Homo sapiens: one gene and its partners. The protein of the gene in region 1 purifies or fractionates together with the protein of each later gene. This does not show direct contact. Each region holds a gene or a part of one and is shown in the gene's direction. Other genes may lie near its edges.

What was found. Proteins that work in one complex are often made in the same cells at the same time.
Region 2: the proteins of TAS2R7 (region 1) and GNAQ purify together in Homo sapiens (affinity purification with mass spectrometry; 2 studies listed by BioGRID and IntAct, with this or other methods). This does not show direct contact.
Region 3: the proteins of TAS2R7 (region 1) and ATP2B2 purify together in Homo sapiens (affinity purification with mass spectrometry, with the first as the bait; one large-scale study listed by BioGRID). This does not show direct contact.
Region 4: the proteins of TAS2R7 (region 1) and BIRC2 purify together in Homo sapiens (affinity purification with mass spectrometry; 3 studies listed by BioGRID and IntAct, with this or other methods). This does not show direct contact.

What each region holds. Positions count from the first base shown.
Region 1 is NC_000012.12:10,799,895-10,804,667, reverse strand, and holds TAS2R7 (taste receptor type 2 member 7), read left to right. Parts: upstream 1-2,040; 5' UTR 2,041-2,097; coding exon 2,098-3,054; 3' UTR 3,055-3,136; downstream 3,137-4,773.
Region 2 is NC_000009.12:77,719,668-77,724,946, reverse strand, and holds part of GNAQ (guanine nucleotide-binding protein G(q) subunit alpha), read left to right. Parts: intron 1-3,433; coding exon 3,434-3,624; 3' UTR 3,625-5,279.
Region 3 is NC_000003.12:10,333,443-10,338,721, reverse strand, and holds part of ATP2B2 (plasma membrane calcium-transporting ATPase 2), read left to right. Parts: intron 1-363; coding exon 364-546; intron 547-2,421; coding exon of another isoform or gene 2,422-2,593; intron 2,594-5,279. UniProt on the Homo sapiens protein: ATP-driven Ca(2+) ion pump involved in the maintenance of basal intracellular Ca(2+) levels in specialized cells of cerebellar circuit and vestibular and cochlear systems.
Region 4 is NC_000011.10:102,349,579-102,354,857, forward strand, and holds part of BIRC2 (baculoviral IAP repeat-containing protein 2), read left to right. Parts: 5' UTR 1-276; coding exon 277-1,171; intron 1,172-1,265; coding exon 1,266-1,365; intron 1,366-5,279. UniProt on the Homo sapiens protein: Multi-functional protein which regulates not only caspases and apoptosis, but also modulates inflammatory signaling and immunity, mitogenic kinase signaling, and cell proliferation, as well as cell invasion and metastasis.

The sequences.
Region 1 (4,773 bases):
TAAGTTTTTTTCTTCCATATTTTGTTTCCTGCCTCTCTAATGTTTCAAGCATCTCTAGTGACCACAGTGACTGGGGTTCAAAGTAGTAAGCTTTTGACAAAATGCTCTCTCATAGAACTTTTTTTTTAACTATATATTCACATAACTTCACGCTATACAACATTGGTATTCATAAAATCTACATTTATTTCCAAAACTAAACAAAAACAAGTCTAAAAATTATTTGAGAAAATACATCATCATAGTTCCCATGAGCACTTCATTTACCAGGATAAACTGTAGGGTAAAAATGATGAGTCTAGGCCAGGCACAGTGGCTCACACCTGTAATCCCAGAACTTTGGGAGGCCAAGGCACACGGATCGCCTGAGGTCGGGAGTTCAAGACCAGCCTGACCAACATGGAGAAACCCGGAATCTACTAAAAATACAAAATTAGCCAGGCATGGTTGCACCTGCCTGTAATCCCAGCTACTTGGCAGGCTCAGGCAGGAGAATCACTTGAACCTGGGAGATGGAGGTTGCGGTGAGCCAAAATAGCACTCCAGCCTGAGCAACAAGAACGAAATTCCATCTCAAAAAAAAAACAAAAGAAATGATAAGTCTAGGTCAGGGATCATATCCAAGATCGTCCTATCATAGGTGATGTTCCAGTTGCCTGTGAACATGGCTACATAATCATACAGATTGTCCAAAAGTTAAGGCTACATCTCCGGAATGATGGTTTGTCCTTTAAGGAAGGATAAGAGAAGACATGCATTCCCAGGAAGGTGTGAATACCCAAGAACTATTCTATGGAACCCCATGTAGTAAAGCGCTTCTCAGTAACTCTAAATTAGAGAAGCTATTTCAAACTAAAAATTCATCTCTAGAGATGTGGAAAGTTTAATCTTCAGTCTCCTGCTAGAAGGGTTGAGGATCTAGATACTCATGCAATTTGTATGGAGGACAGTGGAGAGAATGAAATACAGAATTTTACTATCTCCTCTCTCATGCATACAACTACCCTTGAGAACATTTTTTAAATTTTTGAAATCTTTATGAAAGTATAATTGGTATAAAAAGAACCGCATATATTTAATGTATAAAATTTCAAACACCCATGATATCTTCACCACAAACAAGGTAATGGACATATCTAATACCTCTCAAAGTTTCCTTGAGAACATTTTAAGTGAAAATGAAAAATTTAAGGTAATCAATAGTCTTTTTTTATTACAGGTCCTCTACCTTATTATATATAACATTGCTAAATAACCATTAAAAGTCATTTAGTCAGTAAGACAATGTGTTGTATTAAGAGACACTATGCCATGTAATTGTTCATCTGAACAGCCAAAATAATGACCTAAAGTTTCTTTGGAATCAAATAACCTACATTTAGTGTTAACTTTTTAAAGTTCCTGAAAATATATAACTCTCACTATGGAACCAAACTTTGGATTCTTTACTAATTATCAATATTAACATTCAGCAAAATAAAAATTCTTCAAGAACTTTCCAATTTTACCAGTTTTATACTTGCTACCAAATTCTTGATGTTCAGGTTGCCAGAATGGAACACTCAATCTAATTTGAACTTCAGTACTTCCTGAAAGCACTGATCTTAAGTAATCAGGGACATACACTAAAAAATTATTGATTTTTTTACCTGTAATTCAAGTTTAACTGAGTGTCCTGAATTTTTAGTCGCTAAATCTAGCAACCCTATTGAGGTTACTAGCATACATCACAAATTAATGAATCCAAAATGCGTACACCTTAGCCTCAGAAAGACAATGCAGGACCATGAAAGGGAATTGGCCCAATTTGCATCTTAGTAAACAGTAGCTCAGCCTAAATTAACCGTATGTGGAAAATTACAACCTGCTGAGTAGGTAAATGGGCATACAGTGGCCAGGCCAAGGATCGCCAAACACATTGTTTGTCAAGACTAATTAGGATTTAATGAAGATAGCTCCAGTCTTCATTTATCATTCCAGTCTCCATCACAAAACAGACTACAACAAAGAGGTAAAGAAAACTACATCAAAATCTAAGAAGCAGGTGTGGATGTCAAACTCCATCAGGTCAACTAGAAACTAATTGCATATTTAAACATGGCAGATAAAGTGCAGACTACTTTATTGTTCTTAGCAGTTGGAGAGTTTTCAGTGGGGATCTTAGGGAATGCATTCATTGGATTGGTAAACTGCATGGACTGGGTCAAGAAGAGGAAAATTGCCTCCATTGATTTAATCCTCACAAGTCTGGCCATATCCAGAATTTGTCTATTGTGCGTAATACTATTAGATTGTTTTATATTGGTGCTATATCCAGATGTCTATGCCACTGGTAAAGAAATGAGAATCATTGACTTCTTCTGGACACTAACCAATCATTTAAGTATCTGGTTTGCAACCTGCCTCAGCATTTACTATTTCTTCAAGATAGGTAATTTCTTTCACCCACTTTTCCTCTGGATGAAGTGGAGAATTGACAGGGTGATTTCCTGGATTCTACTGGGGTGCGTGGTTCTCTCTGTGTTTATTAGCCTTCCAGCCACTGAGAATTTGAACGCTGATTTCAGGTTTTGTGTGAAGGCAAAGAGGAAAACAAACTTAACTTGGAGTTGCAGAGTAAATAAAACTCAACATGCTTCTACCAAGTTATTTCTCAACCTGGCAACGCTGCTCCCCTTTTGTGTGTGCCTAATGTCCTTTTTCCTCTTGATCCTCTCCCTGCGGAGACATATCAGGCGAATGCAGCTCAGTGCCACAGGGTGCAGAGACCCCAGCACAGAAGCCCATGTGAGAGCCCTGAAAGCTGTCATTTCCTTCCTTCTCCTCTTTATTGCCTACTATTTGTCCTTTCTCATTGCCACCTCCAGCTACTTTATGCCAGAGACGGAATTAGCTGTGATTTTTGGTGAGTCCATAGCTCTAATCTACCCCTCAAGTCATTCATTTATCCTAATACTGGGGAACAATAAATTAAGACATGCATCTCTAAAGGTGATTTGGAAAGTAATGTCTATTCTAAAAGGAAGAAAATTCCAACAACATAAACAAATCTGAAGAGAAACTATGCTTTTCTAGGACAAACAAAGATAAGATGTTTCTAAATTAACTTCAGTTCTTGCATTAATGTTTTATGTGATTAATTACTCCTAAAACTTAATTAGTGTATCTGTAATTGTAATGTAGGGAATCTTATGTACAGCTGGCTGGATCTCTTTATCTCTGTCTCTGTTTCTGACTCTGTCTGTGTATCCCTGTTTCTCTCTTCTGTAACTCTTCCTTTCTTTAGAGTTGCTGTTTTTTAAAACATGTTTCAGAGCAAATAGAAATTAATATCCTAATATCAACTATCAAGAGTAGAGGGCATTTTCATAGTTCTAAACCGTGTTTCCAGATGCAAAGTTGTGTGACTAATTCAAAACAACTGTAACAGCATCTTGCTGTTATTTGCATCTTTATGAAAAGCAACTAGTTCCTTCTCATAGTCCGCGTTAGATGGTTCCTCTTGGATCATCCAACAAAGCTCTACTTTTGGGAAAGACTCAATAAAGTGACAGTTCTTAATAAATGCTGTGGAATTCTATGAATAATCTTATAATCACAGAAAAGGTATATATTATGGCTAAATATATTGTCACAGTAAGTTCAAAGATTATTTGAGAATTGCAGATCAATGAATGAAGGACAATCTATAAGTAAAAGTGAGAAAAATTATGTAGAAAATGTCTATAAAATAAGAAGCCTAAATTGAACTATTAATTATTTATTGAAGAAAATTTCTCCACAAAAGACGTATGTCCACGGACTGCACCAGGCAATGATTATCAAGATGCTGTGACAAGACATTCAATCAAAAGCTAATACATGGTTATGCTAAAATGTCAAAACTCTCAAAGGATATATTGCCTCAATGTAGATCATCTCTACATCCCAGAGAAATATTGTTTGGATTGTATATAAGACATCTTTTTTTAAAGGGTTCAATGATTCTATTTCAGTAATTTGTTGAACAACAGAACATCTGTAAGAATATAGAATACATTAACAAACACTATCAAGCAACCTGATCTGATATTTATGAAAGATTCCATAAAAGGAAGAGACAACACATTCTCTTTTCAAGCATATATTGAATATTCTCCAGACAATGCCATATGTCAGGCCACAAAAGGAAATATGTATCTGGGACATACCATCAAAAGCACATCATTCATATTGTGGCAAAGATATTTTAGGGTGATCAACCCTGTACTAACCAGCCTAGAGTAGCCAGGAACTTTGTGTACAAAAAAGAAAATATTTGTAAATAAAGAGAGAAAAAAAGTTTTCATGGTTAAACATGATTATTTGTATTACAGTAAAAACTTGTAGAAATGTTTTATTAGAACAGTAACCCAGAGGTTCGTTGAATCCATTTAGAACAATTCTTAATAACTTAATTGAACTCAAAATAGCTCACATGGTAGTTAGGTCTTTTCATCTTCCTCTTGAAAGCCTCCTTCAAAGAAAGAAGAGAAAAAGAATGAAGTTTGAAATGACATCATAAACTCAGTAGAAGGGTCATTGACAAGTCAGAAACAGGGGAAAAAAATCATTAAGCATAAAAGTTTTCTTTGAACAACAAAATTGTTGGTTGACTCACTTACTCAATTCTGCCACTTCTTTGGTGGCATAATTCATTAGCTCTCTCATGTACTCTGGGCATGTATTATATCCTTCCTCCTACACAGAGTCTCTCCCCAGGCCATTAGAATGGACTTCAAATTTTTCATGTAA
Region 2 (5,279 bases), on another chromosome or scaffold:
AATAGTTTTTATTACTTCTCTGGAGTTAATAGTACATTGAAAAAGATGGAACATTAATTATATATATATTTGCTTGTATATATACTTTACATATTGTTTTTAATTGTACTTTTTATCTATTAAATATGATGCCAGCCCTCTTAGTCATTAAAAAAATTGAATTCTGGGCACCTACATCAAAAATTCAACATTACTTTTTTAAATTGTACAAATGAGGATAGTCTATTTGTTTTTATAATTCTTTCCTCCCATCTTCTGGCATTATCAGATATAAGTTTATTGGAGTAATCTCCAATTTATAAAAAGGTTGGTTTGAGAATAATTCAAGTCAGCTGTCTGAAGCTCAGGGTGCATTTTGTTAGAAATGGTGGTCAAGCCCTCAATAGAGTTCTGCAAGATCTCTTTATCCCTACTAGTAGGTAACAAGAATATTGATGATAGAAAAAAACCTGCTGGGTGTGGTGGCTCACGCCTGTAATCTCAGCACTTTGGGAGGCCAAGGTGGGCGGATCCCTTGAGGCCAGGAGTTGAAGACCAGCCTGGTCAACATGGCAAAACCCTGTCTCTTCTCTTCTAAAAATACAAAAATTAGCTGGGCATGGTGGTGCACGCCTGTAGTCCCAGCTACCCACGAGGCTGAGGCAGGAGATTTCGCTTGAACCCAGGAGGTGGAGGTTGCAGTGAGCCAAGATCATGGCACTGCACTCCAGCCTGGGCAACACAGTGAAACTCTGTCTCAAGGAAAAAAAAAAGTTTCTTATTGCTTGGTATAGAACTAACTTGAAAAAATAGGAGGAAATGCATATATAAAGCAACACAAAGACAGATATATGATACGTATCCAATACTTGAAAGGTGATGGTGTTTTGATGTTATTTACAGTAAGTTTTAAGTTAATATATCTATCGGTACCTATTAAATACACTTTTAAAACAGCTTTATTGAGATTATTTATATACCATGTAATTCACTTATTTAAAGTGTACAATTCAGTGGGTTTTGATATAGTACTTTTTTTAATTATAAAATTTGCCATTTTAACATTTTTAAGTGCACAATTCATAAAAGGCATTAATTACACTCACAATACTGTGCAGCCATCACCAGTATTTTCAAAATATTTTCACCACCCCAATTAAGCAGCAACACCCCATTTCCTTCCTCCCCCTAACCCTTGGAAACCTCTAATCTACTTTCTGTCTTTATGAGTTTACCAATTCTAAGTACGTCATATGTGTGCAAGCATACAATATTTGTTATTTTATGTTGGGTTTATTTATTATAATGTTCTCACAGTTCATGCATATTACAGCATCTGTCAGAGCTTTACTCTTTTTTATGGCTGAATAATATTCTTTTTGTTTCTGATATTCTGATATTCTGTTTGGTTTGGTTTTGTTTCTCCATGTATCTGTTGATGGACACTTGGATTGTTTTCGCCTTTTAGCTGTTGTTAACAATGCTGCTATTAAAATTGATGTACATTGCTTCTTGCCCTTTTGACTAAGATCAAGTGTCTATCAGAGCCCCTGCTCTCAATTCCTTTAGATATATACATTGGAGTAGACTAGCAGGGTCGGTCATATGGTTATTCTATGTTTAGCTTTTTGAGGAACCACCAAACTGTTTTCACAGCAGCTGCACCTTTGTACATTCCCAACAGTGCACAAGAGTACAAATCTCTCCATATTTTCCCAAACCCTTGTTAATTTTATAGCCATGCTAGTAGATGTGGAGAGGTCTGTCACTGTGGTTTTGATATGCATTTTTCTAAATGATTACCATTATTGAGCATCTTTTCCTGTGCTTATTGACCATTTGTATATCTTCTTTAGAAAAATGTCTGTTCAAGTCTTTTGCCTATTTTTTAATTGGGTTTTTTGTTATTGAATTGTAGGAGCTCTTTATATATTCTGGACACTAAACGCCTATCAGATGACATGATTTGTAAATATTTTCTCCCATTCTATAGATTGGCTTTTCACTTTCTTAATAATGGCCTTGGCCAGGTGTGGTAGCTCATGCTTATAATCCCAGCACTTTGGGAGGCTGAAGTGGGAGGACTGCTTGAGGCCAGAAGTTCAAGACAACATAGTGATACCCCCATCTTTACAAAAAGTTTAAAAATTAGCCAGGCTTGGTGGCACCTATAGTTTCAGCTATTCAGGAGGCTGAGGCAAGAGGATCACTTGAACCCAGAAGGTTGAGGCTGCAGTGAGCCATGATCATTCCACTACACTGTAGCCTGGGTAGCAGAGCAAGACCCTGTCTCAAAAAAAAAAAAAAAAAAAAAGTCCTTAGATACATAAAGTTTTTAATTTTGATGAAGTCCAATTTATTTTTTCTTTTGTGAAAAATATGACCTGTGCTGTGGTGTCATATCTAAGAATCCATTGCAAAATTACATTTTTAGTTTATCTTGCTAGATATGTCACAATCCTTTTTCAAAGCATCTAGGAGAATTCTTGGTACATAAGAGACTCCTTCTTAAATCAATGTAAGAAAATATAGGTTGGGCACAGTGGCTCACACCTGTAATCCCAGCACTTTGGGAGGCCAAGGCGGGTGGATCACCTGAGATTAGGAGTTTGAGAACAGCCTGGCCAACATGGCAAAACCTTGTCTCTACTAAAAATATAAAAATTAGCCAAGCATGATGGCAGGCACCAGTAATCCCAGCTGCTCAGGAGGCTGAGGCAAGAGAATCGCTTGAACCTGGGAGGCAGAGGTTGCAGTGAGCTGAGATCTTATCACTGCACTCTTACCTGGGCAACAGAATGAGACTCCATCTCAAAAAAAAAAAAAGAAAAGAAAATATAAACCAATTGTTTTATCATCACACATGAACTGAATGCTACACAAATGTAGTGTGCTCAGAAATACCAGAAATCTATGGAAGTGAGACTGTTACAGAGGCCCATTGTAGATAGACCTGACCTTACAAACAGGTGTTCTAAGAGAGATGTCAGTCTGGAAGATGTAAAATGATCCATAATATTGGGTCGTTTGGAGGACAGATTGACAGGAGAGCCCGAGGCAGCTGTATCTTTGTGCACACTTATTATATAGCTGAAACAAGCATACTTAACTCAGTTGAACAGAAGTAAGCTATCACTCCCCTGATGAAGAGCCTACAGTGGCTCCCAATCACTCAGGGAATCAGAGTGAAGGCCAAGCTAAGAAATAAACTTAGCCTTGGCTTTCAAGTCATCTGTCTGCTTTCACCTATCCACATTTTGTGAATGGGTGGGTGCCTGGGTGGGTGGATGGATGGTCAGACATAGCAGTGTTAGGGAAAATGATTATAACAGATCAAATCTGCAGTGCAGATGTAGGCTTCATGAGCAATGACACAGTATTTATTGAACCAATGATGATTGAATACATTAGCAGATTAGGTAACAAAGTGTCCCTCTTGTCTCTTGGCCGAAAGGACCCCAGAGAGATGCCCAGGCAGCCCGAGAATTCATTCTGAAGATGTTCGTGGACCTGAACCCAGACAGTGACAAAATTATCTACTCCCACTTCACGTGCGCCACAGACACCGAGAATATCCGCTTTGTCTTTGCTGCCGTCAAGGACACCATCCTCCAGTTGAACCTGAAGGAGTACAATCTGGTCTAATTGTGCCTCCTAGACACCCGCCCTGCCCTTCCCTGGTGGGCTATTGAAGATACACAAGAGGGACTGTATTTCTGTGGAAAACAATTTGCATAATACTAATTTATTGCCGTCCTGGACTCTGTGTGAGCGTGTCCACAGAGTTTGTAGTAAATATTATGATTTTATTTAAACTATTCAGAGGAAAAACAGAGGATGCTGAAGTACAGTCCCAGCACATTTCCTCTCTATCTTTTTTTTAGGCAAAACCTTGTGACTCAGTGTATTTTAAATTCTCAGTCATGCACTCACAAAGATAAGACTTGTTTCTTTCTGTCTCTCTCTCTTTTTCTTTTCTATGGAGCAAAACAAAGCTGATTTCCCTTTTTTCTTCCCCCGCTAATTCATACCTCCCTCCTGATGTTTTTCCCAGGTTACAATGGCCTTTATCCTAGTTCCATTCTTGGTCAAGTTTTTCTCTCAAATGATACAGTCAGGACACATCGTTCGATTTAAGCCATCATCAGCTTAATTTAAGTTTGTAGTTTTTGCTGAAGGATTATATGTATTAATACTTACGGTTTTAAATGTGTTGCTTTGGATACACACATAGTTTCTTTTTTAATAGAATATACTGTCTTGTCTCACTTTGGACTGGGACAGTGGATGCCCATCTAAAAGTTAAGTGTCATTTCTTTTAGATGTTTACCTTCAGCCATAGCTTGATTGCTCAGAGAAATATGCAGAAGGCAGGATCAAAGACACACAGGAGTCCTTTCTTTTGAAATGCCACGTGCCATTGTCTTTCCTCCCTTCTTTGCTTCTTTTTCTTACCCTCTCTTTCAATTGCAGATGCCAAAAAAGATGCCAACAGACACTACATTACCCTAATGGCTGCTACCCAGAACCTTTTTATAGGTTGTTCTTAATTTTTTTGTTGTTGTTGTTCAAGCTTTTCCTTTCTTTTTTTTCTTGGTGTTTGGGCCACGATTTTAAAATGACTTTTATTATGGGTATGTGTTGCCAAAGCTGGCTTTTTGTCAAATAAAATGAATACGAACTTAAAAAATAAAAGCTGGTATCTTAAAATGTAAGAGAGTAAGACTGTGAAGCCTAAAATGACTGGCTGAGAATGAACCAGAAATGCCATTTGCCAAACAGTTGTAACTAGAAATTTGATTCTCACGGTCCATTCTTTTCTTTGTCCTTAAGATGACATTGTTAGTGTTCACGTCCCATGTTCAGTGTCCAAACCGGCAATGTAAAAAGTATCCTGTGTGGTTTAACAGGAAATCTGTTTATGTCTCTTTATTTGAAACCAGTTTTACTCTCAGTGGTTCTTTAAGTTCAATGAAGTCTGCCAGGAACATTGGTTGGTAGTATTATTCCGACACCTTTAATTTCCAAAATCTGAAGTTCCTGCTAGTTTACCACCTTCATGATCTTCTTGAACTGGTAACTGATTAGGTTGAACTTATGGAAGATTTGTGGACTTAACTCAAAAGTAACCTCTCAGTGTTCTATAGAACATGTATTTGTGTAACTGAACCTACCAGGAGAAATGTTTGGAATTCTATATGTGCAATTTTTCAACAAATGCAAAAAAAATACAGCACATGTATTGACAAGCTTCTGTCAAGCAGCTTGAGTTGAAATTTGATTTAAGAAAATAAATCATG
Region 3 (5,279 bases), on another chromosome or scaffold:
GGTTAAATGACTTGCCCGAGGCCACAGGACCAGGGTTGTCTGGGGTATTCAAAGCCACATCTGTCCAACTCCTAGAGGCCAAGATTGTCCACTATGTACCCTGACTCTGAATGAATGAATTAAAAAGCAAATTGCACTCCAGCCTGGGCAACAAGAGTGAAACTCCATCTCAAAAAAAAAAAAAAAAAAAAAAAAGACATTGTCAAAGACTGGGCTGAGGAACAGGTGAGGTGGGTGAAGGAGTAGATTGATCACATGCCTGGGTGAGCGGGTAGGAGGAGGGAGGTAGAGGAGCGGGTGTCAGGGAGAGAAGGCCACTGGGAAGGACAGCCCCACCGTCCTGACAGACAGGGTCCCTTGCAGGTCATCGCCACCATCCCGACCAGCAGACTCAAGTTCCTCAAGGAGGCAGGCAGGCTCACACAGAAGGAGGAGATCCCGGAGGAGGAGCTCAACGAGGACGTGGAGGAGATCGACCACGCGGAGCGGGAGCTGCGGCGGGGCCAGATCCTGTGGTTCCGAGGCCTGAATCGGATCCAGACACAGGTACAGGAGGCTCTTGGGGGCTGGGCCCAGGCCTGGCCGGGGCGGGCCAGGGGATGGAGGTGAGTGTGCTTGTGCTGCCCCCCAGGGCCCAGCTCTGGTGCTGAGGGAGGGTGGCTACAGAGGGGTCCCGGCCAGCTCTCACCAGCCACTTGCACACCCACTCCTGTGGCTGCTAAGGAACAGCACGGCCTCCTCAGAGAGGTCCCATTGTGCCCTCTCAGGGCAGCACGGGGAAGTGGTAGGGGTCACACCCACCATGGTCTCCAGGGGGATTTCCCTGAGAGGGTGGGGAAGGGTGGCTCTGAGGGCAGAGGTGAGTGAGGGGACTGTCGCTCAGGGCTGGGGGCACCCACCCACAGGGGCCGTGTGAGGCTGGACAGAAGCTGCAGGCCAGGTCGCCCAGGGTCCCCCAGGGCGTGGTGGTCAGGGGGTCCGCCGCCTCCACGGGGGCTTCAGTTGCTCTCCCCAGCTTCCCCTAGGGGGTGGAGAGGCTCTGGGGAGCAAAGGTCAGTCATCCTCAAGCACACACAGACACACATGCACACACCAAGCACACCAGGGGAGCACAGGTGCAGGGCGTAGCCAGCCAGAAGCAGGTTTCTTCCCCAGAGCAGAGAGAGCATGGCTGCCACGTGGCACACGACACACCTGCGCGCCTCCCCCGACCCCCCCACACACATACCACATGCTCTCACATGGTCCCCTTATGCCTGGAGCAGGTGTTGTAGCTCACAAGTGCTGTCACAGCCCTGCGAGGGGAGGGTCAGAAGGGACTCTGTGGGTCTCTTGCCCAGACCATCTGGGGAGCTGGAGTGGGAGCTCCTCCATGCCCCAGCATGCTTGGGCGAAGTGCAGTGTAGAAGCAGCCACCTGGCCACCATCCTGCCAGCTGTGGCCCAGCACCTCATTTCCATCCGATGTAGCAGAGAGCTCACCTGGGTCACCTCCCACCCCTCTGTACCCTGTCCCAAACCTCACCTCATGTGACCTTCACAGCCCTGGGAGGTAGATGTGACTCCCCCAGTTTTAGAGGTTACCAAGGTCCAGGAGATGGCCCCTTCTACTGAGCTGGCACAGCTGGGGTGGGGACTGGAAGCCGGTTTCAGACCCGGAGGTGCCTGACACGGGCCTGGGCTCACCCTCCCTGGTTAGGGCCCCGCAGCCACCCCTCCCAGCCTGCCCCCACCTCCTGGGAGGTCCAGGACAACTCAGTGAATATGTCCCTGGTGCTGTCACTGCCCTGGCGGCAAAGCCACGCAGGGGTCTCCAGATTACGGGAGGAAGCAAGGACTGCGATTTCTTGAGTGGGCAGGGGCGCCTGTCTTGCCTGCCTCTTGCGGAATGCTAACACGGGTCAGGTGCTTTGCCACTTACAGATAACCCTGCCAGGCAGGTGGCATTGACCCTTCTTAAGAACAAGAAACTCGACTCAGAGAGGTGGCTTGCCCAAGGTCAGCTAGCTAGTAAGTGACAGAGCTGGAATTTAGGCCAAGCTCTGTCCACCTCAGGACCCCCACCACACCCTCTACCTCCACGCCTGTACCTGAGGGAGGCTGAACACTGCTCTCTTCCCTCCAGATACCATGTTTAATCACTGCCTCCCCCACTGGCCAGCCCACTGGCCCCTGAGCCACTAGCACAGGACAAAGGCCGGACCCCCTGTGTCCTCCCGGGGACCCTGGGGCCTGCAGGTGGGCCCAGAGCTGAGCAGACGTTTTTCAGAGCCTTGGAGTGTGTCTGGTATTTTTGTTTTGATTTAAGTGACATTGTCGTTGTTGCCGTGGCTGCGGCTGTTCTTGTGACGTTGCCCTGTCAGTCATGTAGCCGTTGTGCTCGTTCTTCTCGCAACTTGTCTCGTTCTCTCCTCCGTTGCAGATTGAAGTAGTCAATACTTTCAAGAGCGGGGCCTCCTTTCAGGGGGCCCTGCGGAGACAGTCCTCGGTCACCAGCCAGAGCCAGGATGTAGCCAATCTCTCTAGCCCTAGTCGCGTGTCGTTGTCCAATGCTCTTTCCTCTCCGACCAGCCTTCCTCCTGCTGCAGCCGGGCGTGAGTGTGACTCCTTACTGCCTCCGGCTGGCACTGCCCACGCCAGCTCCCAGGCGGGCAGGGGCTGGGGCACCAGAGGACATGGGGGGCAGCCGGTCACAATCAGGCCCAGGGGGATGAAGGGTCCCAGCCACCGAAGAGGGTCCCGTTGGTCAGGAGAGCGTAGCCAGTCATGCGGTGGCAGTCACTCAGTGGACCAGGGTCAGTCAGAGGGTCATTAGGGTCCCAAGTGGCCAAAAAGTCTGGTTCAGTCAAGGGGTCACCCTTGGTCAAGAGGACATCAGTGACCAAATGGTCCCAACCCACCACAGGGTCCCGGCAGCCAGAGGGGGACAGACATGGAGGGGACACAGAGTGTCCCACTGGCCTAGGGTCATATGTGGTCAGGAAAAGCCTGGACCACCAAGGCAAGGGTTGGAGTTGGACAAGAGGTCCCAGTCTTGCAGTCAAAGTCAGCAGAAGGGTCACTGTGGGTCAAGGGGAGCAAGCCCCTTAGGGTCCCAGTCAGTCACATTGGGATCCACCCAGGAGAGGGTCACGTCAACCAGACTTTCCCAGTTGGTCAGGGGGCACCCACAGTAATGAGGGTCATGGTCAAGGGGGACAGTTGAGCCAAGAGGTCACTGCAGGTCAGAGGTCATAGTCAGCCAGGGATCCCCAGGCCACCTAGGAGCTCACAGCCTAGACGCTGCACCCCAGCAGTTCAGAGTCTCTGCCCGCTTCCTGTCACTCCTCCCCTTGCACTTTTGACTGCATCAGCTGCCCTGCAGACACCTTTCCCTGTGGCTGAGCTTGGAACTTGCTGAAGTTCTAAGCCCTTCCTGGAAAGGACAAGGTCCCTGGCCCATTCAGCTTGACCCCTGGTAGAAAATGGTGGGTCGAGCCTCACATCTTGCCTGGGTGCCAGCAGGCCCAGAGGGACCTGATATGCCCTTCAGCATCCTGCCCTCCTTTATCTGAGAGATAGCCTGGGACTGTGGCCCCTCCTTCATCTCCCTCCTGCCAAGCTCATCTCCTCATGCCACCACTTCTGATCTAGATCACTCATTGCTGGCTTTGTCTAGCTCTTTCCCGGACCCATGGCTTCGGGCCCCATAGGGAACAAGTCTGTCTTTCCTCCCATCGCCCTGCTATGTTTCCAGTCAGGCGCTTCTGATCTGCAGGGGAGCCCCTGGTTCTGGTCTTCTCCAATTGGCATAGTGTCAGTCTTAGCCTCCAGCTTCTTTGATGAGAAGTAGACTCCAGCTCACCCCTTGAAACTTTATAAAGGGCCTCTACCCCCATCCAAAACCAGAACACCCACAACACAACCCCTGCAGCCAAGCAGGTAACCCGGTGTGCTGGTGGGAGCGCCTCCCTCAGTGCCTCCAGTAGGAGGCGCGGGCCACAGGGAGCCTGTTGATGGCAAATGTCCACGACCCATAGCGGCAGGACAGAAGCAGAAAGCAGGGAAGGAGCCTCTCAGTGCTCATTCGTCAGCACAGAAACGCAGTGCTGGGGAGGACCGGGGAGCCAAGATGAAATGGAGATGCATTTCAGCAGATGGTGGCTGAGTCACATTTCCATGAGATACCGTCACTAGGCAGTCACTGCCAGGATTTCTCGGGGAAGGCAACACCGGTCCCATCCTCCTCCCCTTTAGACCAGAGAGCTCTCACCTTAGCAGCAGCCTAGCCAGCTGACCTCCCAGCTCCTTTCTGCACCAACTCAGCTCTGGCCTTGCTCAGCACCCCCACCTATCCTGAGGTGCGGTAACCAAGTGTCCCGGCAGGGAGAGCTACATGGGGAAGAATCCACTTCTGTTCTGCCACCCCTCCCGATGACTCCTGCGGCCCTCCGGCTGGGGCTGCCTGCTAGCAGTCTGGCTTCTGGGTGAAGGCCCAGTTCTTTGTCCATCCCAGTTGAGCCTCTTTCTTGAAGGGCAGCACTTCACCCTGGCCACGACGGAGCACACCTGACATCGCTGGGCAGGCCCACTGCCTTTGGAAGTCGTCCCCGAGTCAGCCCCTCATCTTAGCTTTCACAGCCTGGAAGCTAGAGCTGTCCGCTCAAACCTCAGCCACTTCTTTCTCAGCTTTTCTTCTGCCTCATTTGCAAAGCCATTCAATAGGGCCCGTCCGGGAACAACACTTCTTTGCAGAAATGCCCTTTTCTTCATTTCTGCAGAAATGCTTAGACAGGAATGTGTCTACACTGACCTCCTTCGAGGCCAGATCAGTCCCCTGTAGCCCGTGGTTACCCCAACTTTGGAACAGTCTTGGAAAAGAAGCCCAGGCAGAGGCTCAGCCAAAGCCAACTTGACAGTCCTTGCCCTGACCCCTCATTCTCTCAGGGGACCCGGCAGGGTTGGCCAGGGCCTCCCCACCCTGCTCACCATCTTGCCTCTCCCTCTTCATGCCTCCTGGAGAATCTCGCATTCCCCCTCTGTGACAGAATCCAGCCTGTAATTCTGGGTGCCTCCTGAGACCCTTCCTGAGCCTATAGTCTTAAAAAGAGCCTGACCAAACCCCTGCCTGAGGGCACTGGTTCCCAGACAGGATCACAGCCTCTGTGGTTTCAGTACACACATTTGGACAACACAGCCTCGTGCCTCCTTTGCTTGAGTAGTGTCTACAACAGTGCTGCCTCCTCTGGTCTCCAAGGACTCTGAGGACCCTCTAAACACCAGCCAAGGTCCCTGCAGAAG
Region 4 (5,279 bases), on another chromosome or scaffold:
TTTAAGTTAGTATTACTCAAGATTATGAACAAATAGCACTTAGGTTACCTGAAAGAGTTACTACAACCCCAAAGAGTTGTGTTCTAAGTAGTATCTTGGTAATTCAGAGAGATACTCATCCTACCTGAATATAAACTGAGATAAATCCAGTAAAGAAAGTGTAGTAAATTCTACATAAGAGTCTATCATTGATTTCTTTTTGTGGTAAAAATCTTAGTTCATGTGAAGAAATTTCATGTGAATGTTTTAGCTATCAAACAGTACTGTCACCTACTCATGCACAAAACTGCCTCCCAAAGACTTTTCCCAGGTCCCTCGTATCAAAACATTAAGAGTATAATGGAAGATAGCACGATCTTGTCAGATTGGACAAACAGCAACAAACAAAAAATGAAGTATGACTTTTCCTGTGAACTCTACAGAATGTCTACATATTCAACTTTCCCCGCCGGGGTGCCTGTCTCAGAAAGGAGTCTTGCTCGTGCTGGTTTTTATTATACTGGTGTGAATGACAAGGTCAAATGCTTCTGTTGTGGCCTGATGCTGGATAACTGGAAACTAGGAGACAGTCCTATTCAAAAGCATAAACAGCTATATCCTAGCTGTAGCTTTATTCAGAATCTGGTTTCAGCTAGTCTGGGATCCACCTCTAAGAATACGTCTCCAATGAGAAACAGTTTTGCACATTCATTATCTCCCACCTTGGAACATAGTAGCTTGTTCAGTGGTTCTTACTCCAGCCTTTCTCCAAACCCTCTTAATTCTAGAGCAGTTGAAGACATCTCTTCATCGAGGACTAACCCCTACAGTTATGCAATGAGTACTGAAGAAGCCAGATTTCTTACCTACCATATGTGGCCATTAACTTTTTTGTCACCATCAGAATTGGCAAGAGCTGGTTTTTATTATATAGGACCTGGAGATAGGGTAGCCTGCTTTGCCTGTGGTGGGAAGCTCAGTAACTGGGAACCAAAGGATGATGCTATGTCAGAACACCGGAGGCATTTTCCCAACTGTCCATTTTTGGAAAATTCTCTAGAAACTCTGAGGTTTAGCATTTCAAATCTGAGCATGCAGACACATGCAGCTCGAATGAGAACATTTATGTACTGGCCATCTAGTGTTCCAGTTCAGCCTGAGCAGCTTGCAAGTGCTGGTTTTTATTATGTGGGTAAGAAGCAAATAACTATACATTTTATCATTTTATTTTAATTTACATATTAGAACATACGTGTTTTCAATATTTAGTCTTTTTTTTCCTGAAGGTCGCAATGATGATGTCAAATGCTTTTGTTGTGATGGTGGCTTGAGGTGTTGGGAATCTGGAGATGATCCATGGGTAGAACATGCCAAGTGGTTTCCAAGGTAATTGTTTTGAAAAAGGTATTTGTACAAAAAACTCTGTGCTTAAAAGAAGTAGGCATGCCTACATGATTTTGTTTACCTTTAAATTATAACAAAGCCTCTTTTATGCCATTGGGGAATTATCCTTCTAAAAGATCACATTTTAACTTTAATTATTTTGTTGAAAAATATTCTGCAGTCTTCTGTGTACTTTTGTAAGTCAGTTACAAGTATGACCGTACATTTTATTTATTTCCCATTTCTTTTAAAGAGTACTTAAGGATTACAAAGACATATAAAATAGATTAAAAAGACGTTAGAAAAAGGTAAGAACAGGAAAACAAGAAGGGACATAGAATGGATGCAGGAATAAGTCAAATGTAAAAGTCCATGTATTAAGAGCATATCTTAGATGGGCGTGGTGGCTCACACCTGTAATCCCAGCACTTTGGGAGGCCGAGATAGGTGGATCACCTGAGGTCAGGAGTTTGAGACCAGCCTGACCAACATGGTGAAACCCCGTATGTACTAAAAATACAAAAACTAGCTGGGCGTGGTGGCGCGTGGCCGTAGTCCCAGCTTCTCGGGAGGCTGAGACAGGAGAATCGCTTGAGCTCAGGAGGCGGAGGCTGCAGTGAGCCAGGATTGTGCCACTGAACTCCAGCCTGGGTAACAGAGCAAGACTCTGTCTCAAAAAAAAAAAAAAAAAAAAAAAGAAAAAAGCATATCTGACTGCCCATTTTAATTGTAATTGTAAATTATTTTTTCTGTACAATTTTTTTTTGTCATTTACCTCCTTTTAGCCACTTTGTCTCTAGCAGTGTCTTTTTTTATTATAGCCTAGAAATAATTTAGGGGCAGTGTTATTAGTAGAAATAGAATTAAATTGTCTTTGTAATTGAGTAGCTATGTGAACTTGGACGTTGTTTGTAAAATGAGGAGGGGTTGGCCTAGATAATTTTTTAAAATAGTGATAAAATAGGCATAACATTTACCATCTTAACCATTTTTTAAGTGTATAGTTGTGTGTCATTAAGTACATTCTTAACCGTTCTGCGATTATACCGCTATCCATCTCCAGAACCTTTGCATCTTCCCAAACTGAAACTGTCTACCCATCAAGTACTAATTCACCATTATCCCATTCCCCAACATCCTGGCAACCACCATTGTCTTTCTCTTTTTTTTTTTTTTTGTTTTGTTTTTTTTGAGACGGAGTCTCACTCTGTCACCCAGGCTGGAGAGCAGTGGCGCGATCTCGGCTCACTGTAAGCTCCACCTCCCGGGTTCACGCCATTCTCCTGCCTCAGCCTCCCGAGTAGCTGGGACTACAGGCGCCCGCTGCCACGCCCGGCTAATTTTTTGTACTTTTTAGTAGAGATGGGATTTCACCATGTTAGACAGGATGGTCTCGATCTCCTGACCTCGTGATCCACCCACCTCAGCCTCCCAAAGTGCTGGGATTACAGGCGTGAGCCACCGCGTCCAGCCCTTGTTTGTTTTTTTGAGGTGGAGTCTCACTCTGTCATCCAGGCTGGAGTGCAGTGACACGATCTTGGCTCACTGCAACCTCCACCTCCCAGGTTCAAGCGATTCTCCTGCCTCAGCCTCCTGAGTAGCTGGGATTATAGGTGCCTGCCACCATGCCTGGTTAATTTTTTTGTATTTTTAGTAGAGACAGGGTTTTTAGTAGAGACAGGGTTTCACCATGTTGGCCAGGCTGGTCTTGAACTCCTGAGCTCAAGTGATCTGCTCACCTTTGCCTCCGAAAGTGCTGGGATTACAGGCATGAGCCACTGCCCCCTGCCGCACCATTCTATTTCTGTCTCTATGAATTTGACTACTCTAGGCATCATATATAAGTGGAATCATACATCACAGATTATGTTTTTACCTGTGAGTGTCTTTCACAATAATGAAGAATCTCTTGAACCCCTTCAGGAAATTTAAAAAGTTTTCGTCATTTTGTATGATATATGATGAAAAAGAAACTTGAAGTAACAAATACTTTATTATGGATCAGTACATTGTTAAAAGTTGTATTTTAAAGTTATTAATATTAATAATATATCAAGATAAATTTTGACTTTTTTACACTGAAAAATGACTAAATTATTAATTATGTTTAAAATTAAAAAGCATGTTTTATCAGACTTTTAAATGACTTAATTATGTTGGGCTCTATGGGATTATATACATTAATTTGAAATTTAATCCATGTTGTGGTATCAAAGACAAAAACAGCTTCCAAATTCCAGTGTTGGAACTGCTACATTTTGTACCTTATAAAACAAAATCAAAATCTTTATTTTTGTAACTTGTGTTTTGTTTTAAATGATTAAGGGAGAAGATGTAGGGGCGTGTTTTGTAAATGCTTCTCTGAAAACAACACATTTCTTTTTTCCTTTTTTTTATTTTTTTGAGACAGTGTCTCATTCCATCACCTATCACTGCTGGAGTGCAGTGGCAAGATGGCAGTTCACTGCAACCTCCACCTCCTGGGTTCAAGCCTCAGCCCCCCGAGTAGCTGGAATTATAGGCACACGCCACCACACTCAGTAGTTTTTGTATTTTTAGTAGAGACGCAGTTTCGCTATGTTGGCCAGTCTAGTCTCAAACTTCTGACCTCAAGTGATCTGCCTGCCTTGGCCTCCCAAAGTGCTGGGCTTACAGGCATGAGCCACTGAGCCCAGCCCACATTTCAACTGGGAATAATCTTTAATCTCAGTAAATCCATCACCTTATGTAGTAACTTTCTTTTTTTTTTTTTTTTTTTTTTTTGGTGAGAACTCTTAAAAGATGCTCTTTCGCAAATTTCAGGTATAAGGTCCAGTATTATTAGCTATAGTCACCATGTGCTGTACATTAGATCCTCAGAAAGTTTGTGTTCTTTAACCAACATCTTCCCATTTCACCTACCCCCTTATCCCTGGCAACCAGCATTCTACTCTCTGTTTCTGTGAGTTTGGTTACCATACAGTATAGTTGTCCCTTGGTATGCTCGGAGGACTGGTTCTAGGACCCCCATGTATACCAAAATTCGCACATACTGAAGTCCAGAAGTTGACTCTGCAGAACCTGTGCATCCAAAATTCAGCCCTCCAAATATGTGGGTTTCACATCTGCAAATGTGATCTGCATTTGGTTGAGAAAAATCTGGGTGTAAATGGACATGTGCAGTTCAAACCTGTGTTGTTCAAGGGCCAGTTGTATTTGTCTTTCTCTGGCATATTTCACTTGGCATAATGCCTTCCAGGTTCATTCATGTTGCAGATGGTAGGATTTTATTTTATTTTATTTATTTTGAGATGGAGTCTCACTCTGTTGTCCAGGTTGGAGTGCAGTGGCACCATCTAGGCTCACTGCAATCTCCACCTCCTGGCTTCAAGCGATTCTCCTGCCTCAGCCTCTTGAGTAGCTGACATTATAGGCACCTGCCATCATGTCCGGCTAATTACTCTGTTTTTGTAGAGACGGGGTTTCACCATGTTGGCCAGGCTGGTCTCAGACTCCTGATCTCAAGTGATCCACCCGGAGTGGATGGGATTATAGGCGTGAACCACCACGCCCAGCCAGGCTCATCCCCCATTCATCCCTTAGTAGACACTTAAGTTGTTTCCATATAGCTGCTTGAACATGGGAGTAGAGATATCTCTGAGATACTGATTTCATTTCCTTCAGATATGTACACAGAAGTGGGATTGCTAGATCATATGCTAATTCTATTTTTAGTTTTTTGAGCAACCTCTATACTGTTTTCCATAATGACAGTAGTAAATTACCAACAATGGTCAAGGGTTCCCTTTTCTTCACATCTTTGCCAACTTTTGTTATTTCTTGTCTCCGATGATAATAAGGCATCATTACAGGTGGGAGGTGATATTTCATTTTGGTTTTAATTTGCATTTCCCTGATGATCAGTGACATTGAACACC